2 separate regions of the Homo sapiens genome follow, and region 2 is reported to be linked to region 1. The links are microRNA targets in miRTarBase. Many come from high-throughput screens and were not tested one by one. Region 1 holds a microRNA gene; the other region holds the end of a gene's coding sequence.
What was found. Region 1 holds the annotated microRNA hsa-miR-2110 (UUGGGGAAACGGCCGCUGAGUG, at 3,306-3,327, opposite strand). A microRNA usually pairs through its seed, bases 2 to 8, with sites in the 3' UTR of a target mRNA and lowers its output. Matches are read on the target gene's strand: a 7mer-m8 pairs with bases 2 to 8, a 7mer-A1 pairs with bases 2 to 7 and ends in A, and an 8mer does both.

Region 1 (5,374 bases):
ATAGATGCGGCAAGACCCCCCCACCCTCCACCAACTCCCAAATAGTACCAAATCCTGTGATAGGATAACAGGACAAAGAGAAATTATGGTCCATCAAAATTCCATGAAAAAGAGGGTCAGTGGCCACATCATAGTTCACCTTATCAAGTTACACCATATATGTCATATCAGCTCGGTAATTTTACATGTCTCCTATAAATACTTTAAAATACTAAAGCAGAAAGTTATCAGAAATGACTTCCTACTAATACAGAAATCTAATTTGAAGATTGCACTTGCACTTTAATGAGTCTAAGAAAACATGAAAAGTATTATCAGCTAATTTTCCTCCAAATCTGAAAAGGAATAAAGTAGGTAAAAAAAAATCTGACCTATAGTTCCTTTTTCAAAAAGGAAGGCTCTCAGGCCTTCCTTTACAGGTGGCTCACACCTGTAATCCCAGCACTTTGGGAGGCCTAGATGGGAGGATCAAATGAGGCCAGGAATTAAGAGAACAGCCTGGGAAACATAGCAAGACCTGGTCTATAAAAAATAATAATATATAATTTTTAATTAAAAAGATTAGTATGGTGGCCTGTGCCTGTTGTCCTAGCTACTCAGGAGGCTAAGGCAGGAGGATTGCTTGAGACCAGGAGTTCAAGGCTACAGTGAATTATGATCATACCACTATACTCCAGCCTGGGTGACAGATTGAGATCTTGTCTCAAAAAACTAAACAAAATGAAGCCTAGTATCTTTAAAAAAAATTTTTTTTCAAGTTATAAGCCTGCATTACATTAAAAAGTTTGGGTTAATGTTTAAATTTTGAAGACACCTTTGGCCAGAGTTGGTTAATTTGGTATGCTCTACTTTATTAAAAACATGAACTGATAGTCTACCGTGGGATTATGTAGTAAGTGCGGTAGACATTACATAGTCTACATAATCCCACAATTATCAGTTCAAGTGTCTTAATGATAGACAAATGTTAATAAGAAATACACTCACAATCCAATCAAAACTATGCTGGTGCTGATTTCCACTTTGTGTCTACTGTCCCTTCATCTCAGTATTTTTCCTTTTTCTTACTTTTTAGCCCAAATACATTTTTTAAATCTCAGTAGCTAAGAAAGTTCAAAGCAGTTTGAAACAATAGATTAAATTATCTATGATCTCACTGCTGCCCCTAAAATGAATACTAAGTATAACATTTGCAATACTGTAAACTCAGTGATATGTTTATGAGAAATTGAAAAACCAGCTTTAGTTATTTTAAGGTAGAGATAAAAGAAAAACCTAAGTTTTACTAAAAGAAAAAAAATTTCAGGGTAAGGATTCTTACTTTAACACGAAACTGTTGCATGAATTTGAGAAACTAGTGCAGATTACCAGTCCTTCTTCAAAGGGAAAGATTATTTTCTAAATCTCCAAATAAAGCTGCTTTGTGCTTCAACCTACTGTCTCTTCCTGGAGTCAGTATACTGCAATGCTTTTATCTTCACTCTGTGATGTCAGCATAAAGCTGCAAATAGATGTTTCTAAACTGAACATACTAAGCAATCATTAGCTATGCTGTCACTGCATAGCATTAAAGGACAACTCTACTTTATGGGTGAAAGAACTAAAAGGTTAGAGTGGTCACTGTGATACACACCAGCCAACCCTTTCCGTTAGCAATAAATAGGACTCAAAAGCCAATGACACACTATGGAATCTCCACTGTTTAAAGAAACCTTAAGTTTATATGCAGTTATTCTGAATTTAACAGGGCCTTTAAAAAACAAACACAATCCATGCATTTCCAGGGAGAATCTTCAGTAATCATACGTTTGCCTATTATGCTGTAAAAAGTTTTAATTCTTAATACTGCAAGATTCGTGATCTAATATCTTCACTGCATTAAAAATAACATGAAAAGACCAGAAATAAAAGAGAAAAATGAACCTAGCCAATCATTACTGTTTTTTATTTGTGTAATGTTGGATAAAGAATTGAAGTTACACAGGGAACAGTGTACATTACACACAGAGATAGTTCAGTTTCACTATCAATCTCTCTTGAACCTGAATCCTTCCCACGAGATGAACACTCGGTAAATATTAAGGTGTACTTGATAGTTGGGAAAGCCACACCCACAACTAGCATACCTAAATAGATAATAGCAGATTAATTTCTTCTGAATGACTACCAGCACACCTCTTGAAACCCTGATTTACTGAACACCTTAGAAGACAACACCCGGCCTATCGTTTTGGAAGAAAAAAAAGCTGGGCATCAAAGGAACATGACACACATGCAGAGAAAACGGCCAAGTACCTGGGACTGTACTGCGTATTTTTACTATATTCTCTCTTCTGATTTCCACAGGTAACAAGATTATCAAGTGAAAGAAGTAGGATTCTAATCCAGATGTTCTGACTCGAAATCCAGGACTTTTTCCTCTAAACAAAATCAAGATGGGAATATTAGGTGAAGTTGTTAAACTGTTAACAGCTAAGCAATACTCACACCTGCACTGTTTCCCAAGATTGCTACTTAGGGACACGTAGAAGGGTTTTTGTTTTGTTTTTGCCATTTTTCATTACTGATGGAGACATAAATCTGAAACCCCTTCCTTACCAACCAAGGTTTATGAAATGCCTTGACGTCCTTGAAAGACAACATAAAGAACAGTATCCACCACTCCAAAGAATCACTTCTAAGGAACTTAGAATCACAGTAATGGAAGTGTTTGGAAGAGGGTAACAAGTCTTCACAACAGTAAATATAAAACACCCACATACAGTCAACTTGAGACGAAAAACGAAATAGGCGATTGAGTCTAGGAAAGATTCTCGAGCAGGTAGGGCTTGGCTGCAGTTCACACGCAGCCCAGGCAATGGGCTCGAATTCAGACGCTCTCGAGGCACAGCCCCCACGACCCCCGCTGACCCCTCTTTGCCACCTCCAAGGTCCCGGAACCGAAGGAGGAAGGCAGGGAGAGGAAAGGGCTTGAAACCCGTTCCCCAGCCCTCCCCTTCCTCCGCGCCCTCAAAGGAGCCAGGCGGGGAGCCCGCTCGACCTCGACCTCCACCTCGCACTCGCCCTCGCCCCCGCCACGGAACGTGCAGGAAGGAGCGGAAGGCTGGCAGCCCCACCGCACCGCCACCGCGACTCACCGGTGTGCCCCGAGTACCCCTCAGACACTTACCCCACTTATCCAAGCCTCAGGCCACGCCCTAACAAGGCTGCTGGAGCTCTGGCTCAGGGGCCAACTTTTCCATAGCGGGGTCCAACCAGCCAAGAGTGGGAGGAAAAGACCGCGGTGAGAAACACAGCCGACGCCTCACTCAGCGGCCGTTTCCCCAAACCCCTGCGGAGCTGACACATCAACAAAGATGGCGGCGACACTGAAGCCGGCCCGGTTACAGCTGAGGGGGCGGGGGCTCCCTGGAGGAACCAATCAGCGCAGCGCGGGCGGGGTGACGCAGCACACCTTGAGGTCCTGGGTAACCTGTCTGCAGTGGGCTGGGCTGGCGGAGCTCACCTCCCACCTCCCGGCCCAGGAGGCCCCACCTTGCGGCCCGAGAGGCCCCGCCCCGCACTCCGCCTGGCTGGGCACCCACGCCTCCGCGACCTGGAGAGCCGGGTCTCCTGCCCTTTGGTCGGGTTCTTCCTTTCAAGCTCCTCCGGACCCACGCAGCCTGTTTCTTTCTGCAGGACGCTCTTGTTGGCTATTACTCCTCCTCACCCTTTGGCCTGCATGAGTCAGGGACATAAAGCAATAAAAGAGAATTTGAAATTGTGGCTTCCCGGCTCTCATGCGGAAACCTTGCACCTTACGTGGGCGGAGTCGGCTGGAGCAGGCTACGATGGGGGAGACCTCTGGGGGTTCCATAACAGCGCGTTCGTGTCTTCAGCGTGGCGCTGCTGCCATTGTTTAATAATAAACTGTCGGTGCCTTCGTCTCTGGCTTCAAGCTGAGCGCATTGATGGTAGGAAGTGTCCTCTCCCGGCTGAGTAACCTGGCACGCAGCATGGCAACAAAAAGTGTATTGGGTACAGTTGCCTCGCCCGGCCCAGAGAAGGAAGGTCAGCAGTTCAGTCTCTGGAGGTTTCGCAAACCTCCTCAGTCCGGGGAAACGATGTTCTTTGGTTTAGGTCTTACACATATCTCATGAATGAAAATAGCTGATGCAGACGATTCTGCAATGTAAGAATTTGTAAAGCAAAACTTACTACTGTTCTGTTAAGCGTCTTCGATACTGTTGGCAAAACACACACACGGAGGTGTAATGGCACCTCACTCCTCCTTAAATGAAGGTACTACACTGAAGCACATTTTGCAGTTAAAGTGTCTTGTCATAGAAAATAAATGATTTGACTTTAAAACAATAAATCGACCAAGCCTTCCTAGGGAGACATTAATCCAAGGGGAAAAAACTGAAGAAACCTTAAGCTGTTTTCGGTACTCGTCAGTAATAACATAGGTATTACTATTTCTGAATATTTCTGAATTTATAATTAGTATAAAGTATATAAATATATCTTTGTGAACCAAGTTTTTCACCATAAGAGAAAAGAAATACAAATATAAACCAAAGACATTATATTAAAATTCTGCAATCCTATATTTGAATTTACAAATATCAGAATTAACTCATGGTACATTTTTTTCGTGAAAAAAAAGGTGTGTCCACTGAAAACTCTTAGAACAGTGACCAACCCATTGCACACTCCTATTCCCCAGATTGTGATCTCTAAAGAGCATTGCCCAAAAAAAGTTACCTTGGCTTCTCTTGGAGGTTAAGTGCTGATTCCCAGTAGGGGCAAGAAATATGCAAGATAGCCTAGGACATATTGCTTGTAGCAGAAAGCAAGGAAGAAAAGCAAAGATAACATGAACTGTACCCAAAAGACTCAGAAGGCAGTTCAAAGATGCCCCAACTTCTCAAACAGGACAAATTTAGCATTCAAAAATAATAACAGCAACTGGTTGAGACGCACTATGTAAAAAAATCAGTGAGTGCATTTATTTTTTTTAATGTCATTGACCCTCTTGGAAAGATGCCAACAAGTCATTACAATCTGAGAACTGATAAAGAATCAAGCATTCATCCTACCTTTCCTGTTGCAAACTGAATGTCAATCAAATAGTCAATGTGGGGAAGCTCTTCTCTGTAGAACTCCATGTAATAATTGCAGAAAGAAAGATAGATGATCACCATTTTGCAAACCCTGATGAAATAATGGATCTAGGTAATGGTCATCTGTGAATCTAGAACCATTAGATGAAAAACTGATAGGAAGCTTCGTATTGTAATGGATGGATGGGGCTGGCACCACTTGAACCTACTAGATCAATCTTAATATCCTCCAAAGTGAAACAACTACATACTATGTATTTTCTGAAATG
Region 2 (5,374 bases), not on the chromosome of region 1:
GGAGGCCCTGACACAAGGCCCATCCTGGTCCTTGCACTCACTCTCCAGGGCACCTTGGGCAAGTATTCTCACATCTCTCAGCCTCTGTTACTTCAACCCAAAAACGAGGAAGTTGGGAACAATCATAACTGTGGAGACTTCTATTCCTGATTTCTAAAATGACAGGGGGCAGAGACAGGGAAGGGATTAAAGGGCCAGGGGTTCTCTAAGCTCACCTGTCCTCAGGGCCCAGGGATCCTCGTGGAGGCTGCTGCTCTGTTAGAACCTGAGTTGAAGGGAATCTTAGAAAGTGCTCCCCACCCTGTGTAAGCAGTCTGGATTCCCCAAGAGTGGCTGGCAGAGGGTAGGCACTGTGGGTTGTAATATCCCAGTGTGTGAAGGGAAGCTTCAGAGAAAGCCAACTAGTTTGTCTTTGGGACGCCAGCCAATCTCATCATGACCTCAAAAATGGAGGCTGTGAGCTAGATGAGTGCATGAGTTAAATCAAAATTTCGGATTTTAAAAAATCTTCCCTAGCCCAAATACCTGTAGTTAAAATCCTCCTTAAAACTCGCATCTTCACAAATACATTGGAGTGTGCAATCAGTCCTTTCCAACTCACAAGGCTAAAGAAGGAGAATGTGATGTCCCAGCATGTTTAGGGTCCTCTTGGTCATCTTTAAAGCGGTGTCACTACATCACGTGGGGGAGGGCTGAGCTTGCCTACTTTTTCTTCTTAAGGGAGGAAGAAGCCGGAGAGGGGACTAGGATGCCTGAAAACGATGGGAGACTGCATCAACCTCAGCCTCTGACTTCTCTTCCCCCGTTTCGTGCTCCATCCAGCCCACTGAGAGTCTCAGGTAGGCGTGGGCTTGAGCAGAGGTGGGTTCAGATCTGTGGAAACAGATTAAAGCTCAACAGGTTAAAGCTCAACAGATCAAGTCAAGTCCAGGTGCCCGCAGAAAATCCACTGCTACAAGCCCTGGTTTCTACCACACCCCTCTCCTGACTCCGAAGCTTTCGTTGGCGGTTGCCTTCCCAGACAGGAGAACCCAGGTTTCACTCTCCTGTTTCTTCGGCTTCTGACACCTTGAAAAGAAGCCTAGGCGCTCTTACTGTGCCTGCCCTGCGCTGGCCACAACCTAGTTCATCCCCTGCCAACATCAAACTCCAGATCCTGGGTAGAGAGGGCAGCCAGAGAAAAGATCCCAGAGTGACTGGAGTTCCTTTATGGTTGCCTCTGAGGTGCAAAGGATGTCAGAGGGATTTGTGGCAAGCAGAGTCTGAGCCCGCCTACAATCCACACGACTCTTTGCAGGGAGTAGAGGGAGAGAAGCGGGAAATCTCCCTGGCTGGTATAATGACCTGAGCCTCCCTTGGAAGCAGGACCTCGCCTGGACCTGCCCCGGGGGCTGACGACTTTGGCCTCGGGCGGGGGGGTGGGCACAGGAAGGCGAGGGAGACACACTGCTCGCAAGGATGTCTATGCCCACTCTCGACTGAAGCGGGCAAAAGGGAGAGAAACGCGGCGCCAGCCTTCAGTGGTTTAGTCCGCGGAACTTGGCGCTAGGCAAATTCTCTGTGGAAACAAGCGCCCTACCCACCCACACAGGCTGAATAAGGCGGCAGAGGCTCCTCTCTGCTTTGCCATATGGAGGAGAATGGGGAAATTTATTAGCGTGGTTTTACCCGCAAAGTGCTGAAATAGCCAGTATACTGCCTGTCTCTCGTGTGTCTATATGAATCTGCAGGTCTGTGTGCGTCCACGTTGGAGGGGATGGGTGATGGGTATTGAGTCCCTACCCCCGCCCCAAAGGAAACGCACCGTGGTCACCATCCCTCTGTGAGCCTCTGTGCACCTTGGTAGCCTTTTTCGGAGGGCTCCGCGCAGCGGGGACTTCAGCGGGCTAGGCAAAGCTTTGCTCAAAGAGCAATCGCTGGCTGGAGTCTCGGGTTGTGTGCAGGAGGGGCGGGGGCCGCGGCTCTGTTCTGCTCTGCTCTGCTCTGCTCCGGGGCCCGCGCGCTCTCCTGCTCCAAGCCTCAACCCTGAGCGGTTCTAGCGCCCCGCACGGTCCGCGCTGGGCCTTCTCTTCCGGGTCTGAAAACTCTAGGTCTTGGTTGAAGAATTTCGAGCTGCTTGGCCGCCTTTGCTAGCATTTTGCGCTGCCAAGAAGACCCCAGTACCCGGGGTCGAGAGAGCAGCCCTGGGATGGGACTATCCGGCCAAATTTTAGCCTTTCCTCCTGGCCACCTGTGGCTACCCTTCTTCCAGATGAACTGTAACTTTTCCGGGGCTTGTGATATTCCGATTCTGATGAAATGTGGAAGAACTCCACTGCTAGGGTAAAGCCCCGCAAGAACTTCAGGTGATAACTGACTAGGAACTGGGGGTGGGGGTGGCGGAAGCAGGGGCGCCTCCTGCGAGCACTAGGGTGGTATTCGTCCTTCTGACTCCCGCCCTCAGGCGCTCACCCCCCCGGCTCACTTCATCCCTGAGCCCCCCAGCTCTGCCGTGCCCCCTGGCCTGGCGAAAGGTGGCCTAAATAAGGCAGAATTCTACCTGAAATCACATCATGACATTCCCCGATGATGATTTTCTTCACGTTCAAAGCCCCGGGGCCAGGGCGTGGACCTACGGTCTGGGTTTGGCGGTAGCGGAAACCTCCAGGGCCAGGTGAGGAGCAGGGGAAAGTGCGGTTTGTATAAAGCATCCTCCCCACCTTTCTTCCCTAGACTCCGCTCCTCAGCTAAGTGTGCGTGCCGACGCGTTATTCTCCTTAACGCCAGAGCTGGATTGAAGCACCTCAAAATTCGATGTGCTTGGGATATCCTGCTTCCAGAATTTCGATATGTGGGGTCAGGGGAAATTGATATCGATAATGCAGACAAAACTGAGGTACAGAGGGAATCCTGAAGTTTGGCAGCAGAGCCTACAGAAGGCTTGAAGAACTATCCCAGCCCTGGCCCGCACCCAGGCCAGGTGGGGAGGCTGCCCTGGCCTGGAAACTCTTGTGACACAATTAGGGATAACAGCTAGTTCATGTTCCTATTGAAGATGGGGTCCCTTGTGGTATGCTCTTTCTTTTCTCTTGACTAAATTGTACATCTCTGATCATTCTGCCCCTACTCCATTCTCACTGCTCTTGAATCATCTCGATTTGGGGACTTAGGGGGTTGGCTGGGTCAGGAAATGATCATCTTTGCATCCATGTGTTGGCTTTGGGACTTGTTATCTGTATCTTGTATCTGGCTATGCAAGTGTAAGAAGGCTCAATCTGCTGCCTCTACTTCACCCCTGGATGGAAAAGTCGAGAACAGAGATCCTGGAATGAGCTCCAGGGGAATGTCTAAAAGTGGAGGAGATAAGCAAGACAGAGGACTGCTGAGAACTTTCCCACTCTGGCCAAGGGACTGAGGTGTGTCCTAGGCTCTCTGACTTCAGCACCTCTCCTCAACTCATTCTGAGAACTGGCCACCCCGCCTGGATGCTGGGTCTGCCAGAGACCTTGTGTCCTTCACTTGCTCAGTGCCGAAGAGATTGGCACTGAGACTGATCAGGATTTCCCAAAGAAATCTATTTGCTATAAAATCCCCCCAAAGAGCTTTTAGCAACTCCAGACATTTCACAGTTACAAGCAGGAGGACAGGTCCTGGAGAGAGGTTTAACTTTTCACCTTTAAAAGAAATAAACAAACAAAAAATCTTTGAATTGCCCATCCTAGTAGCAGTGTCAAGGTTTACTACATATTTTCCAGCTGCAGTGGGATGGGGAAACTGCCTCACGACTCTCAGCAGCTTTGGGGAGAAAGAGCTCATCTAGGCACCTCCAGTGGCCAAATTGCAAAGGAAAATTTTTGCGTGGATGAGGGAATGGAGGATGCAACTTCATAGTTCTATCCGTGGCCACATGTAGGCCAGGAAGTCCAAGTTCTGATCTGGGCTGTGCCTCTGCTTCACCTTGAAGAAGTCACCTCTTTGTTTGGCATGTTTACAACCAGGGCCCTGGCACTCTAAGACCCAAGCTTCCAGCTCTAACCACTGTGTCATGTCTGTCCTTTCCTCAGCAACATTGCAAACCTGTCCTCTACCCCATCCCGGAACAAGGAAAAGTTTGTGCAGGGCTCTGGGCCCGCGCTTCGCGTCCACATAGTGATTACAGCTGTGCCTAGATTGACCCCGCCTGGCATCACTGCCTTCCCCATTCCAACTCTGAGTACTCTAGGAACTCATTTCGTCCATACTGTGAATGGGGAAACCATCTGTTGCACTGGCCTAACAGTTTCTATGGCCTGCTCCACTCTCAGGCTACTCAGGGTCTCAGAGGGCACTTTCAGTGGCAGTTGGCGCTAGAAATCTCTTAATTAGAAGCCTCTAAACCCAGACGCCCATCTCTGATGTCTGTAACAAGATGGCTCTGAGGTTGAGCCACTTCCCCTGAAACTCCAGCCCCACCACCTTCAGCTGCTGCATTCTACAGTGTCCCCGGGACTAAGGTCCGGTTGTAGATCTCTGGCCTTAACAACCCCCAGCAAAGCCAAGCGGCCTTTACAAACCGTAGTAAACATTTTATTTACAAATTTAAGGCGTCCTAAGTGCCTTTGAGCCACGACCTCTGGGGCGAGTCAGAGAAACAGTTTAGTCAAACACCTCACAGTCGAACCAGCCTGCTTCCGGAGAGAAGTGTTCGGCTGGCTAGCAGGACACTGAGACTCCCCTCTGCTTTGGGCAGTGTCCGCTGCAGCCAGTCGGAGCAGCGTGGGGCGAAGCGTGAATGTCGGGAGGTAGGCTCCACGCTGCGTCTCCTGCCCTACCAAGTCGCCAACATACAGTAAGCACAAAACCCAGCCCATGGTTGGGAGGCTGCACGCAAGGCCCGGATCCCCTCCGCCCTAGTACAGTCTATAAGCAGCCAAGCGCGCCTTGGGCTGGCTCGGGGCTTTTGGGAGCGCTGCTGGCTGTGGGCTGTGTTGCAGGGAGAAGCTCCGAGGCGCCGCCGCCGCCAAGGCTGCTGGCGCAACCCGCACTGGTGCTGCTGCTACTAAGACTGCTGGCGCTGCTGAAGCTGAAACTATTGCCGCCGCCGCCGCTGCTCCCACCACTCCCAGCACTGCTGGCGGTAATGAGGGCGCCAGTGACCGGGGCCTTAATAACTGTTGTTTGGTGCAGAGAACGCTCACTCCCCTCAGTCCGCTCCGTGTCGCTGGGGGCCATGTCCAGGGACTCGGAGTCGCTGCTCTCGCTCTCAGCCTCGCCTTCAGAACGGCTGGGGCTCCTCTCGTCCTGCTCGCCATCCGCAGCCGGGGCTCCACCTGATGGCTTCTCGCCAGCCTCCTTGTCCTTGTCCTTTTGGGCCTGGGCCTCCTTGGAGTGCCGCCACTTCATCCGCCGGTTCTGG

Region 2: miRTarBase lists HLX as a target of hsa-miR-2110. The part of its 3' UTR that is shown has no 7-base or 8-base seed match.

The regions. Positions count from the first base shown.
Region 1 is chr10:114,170,846-114,176,219 of GRCh38, forward strand. It overlaps MIR2110 (microRNA 2110), which reads right to left and starts at 3,334; the gene lies at 3,260-3,334. It overlaps CCDC186 (coiled-coil domain containing 186), which reads right to left and starts at 3,358. Exons shown (of 16, transcript NM_018017.4): 1 at 3,170-3,358. It also overlaps a transcript of TDRD1 not described here. RefSeq lists enhancers at 3,040-3,568, 3,164-3,363 and a silencer at 3,424-3,693.
Region 2 is chr1:220,884,209-220,889,582 of GRCh38, reverse strand. HLX (H2.0 like homeobox) reads right to left here. Exons shown (of 4, transcript NM_021958.4): 4 at 4,524-5,374. The coding sequence ends at 4,879. Among named protein-coding and RNA genes, the nearest start is that of HLX-AS1, 6.8 kb to the right of the region's middle.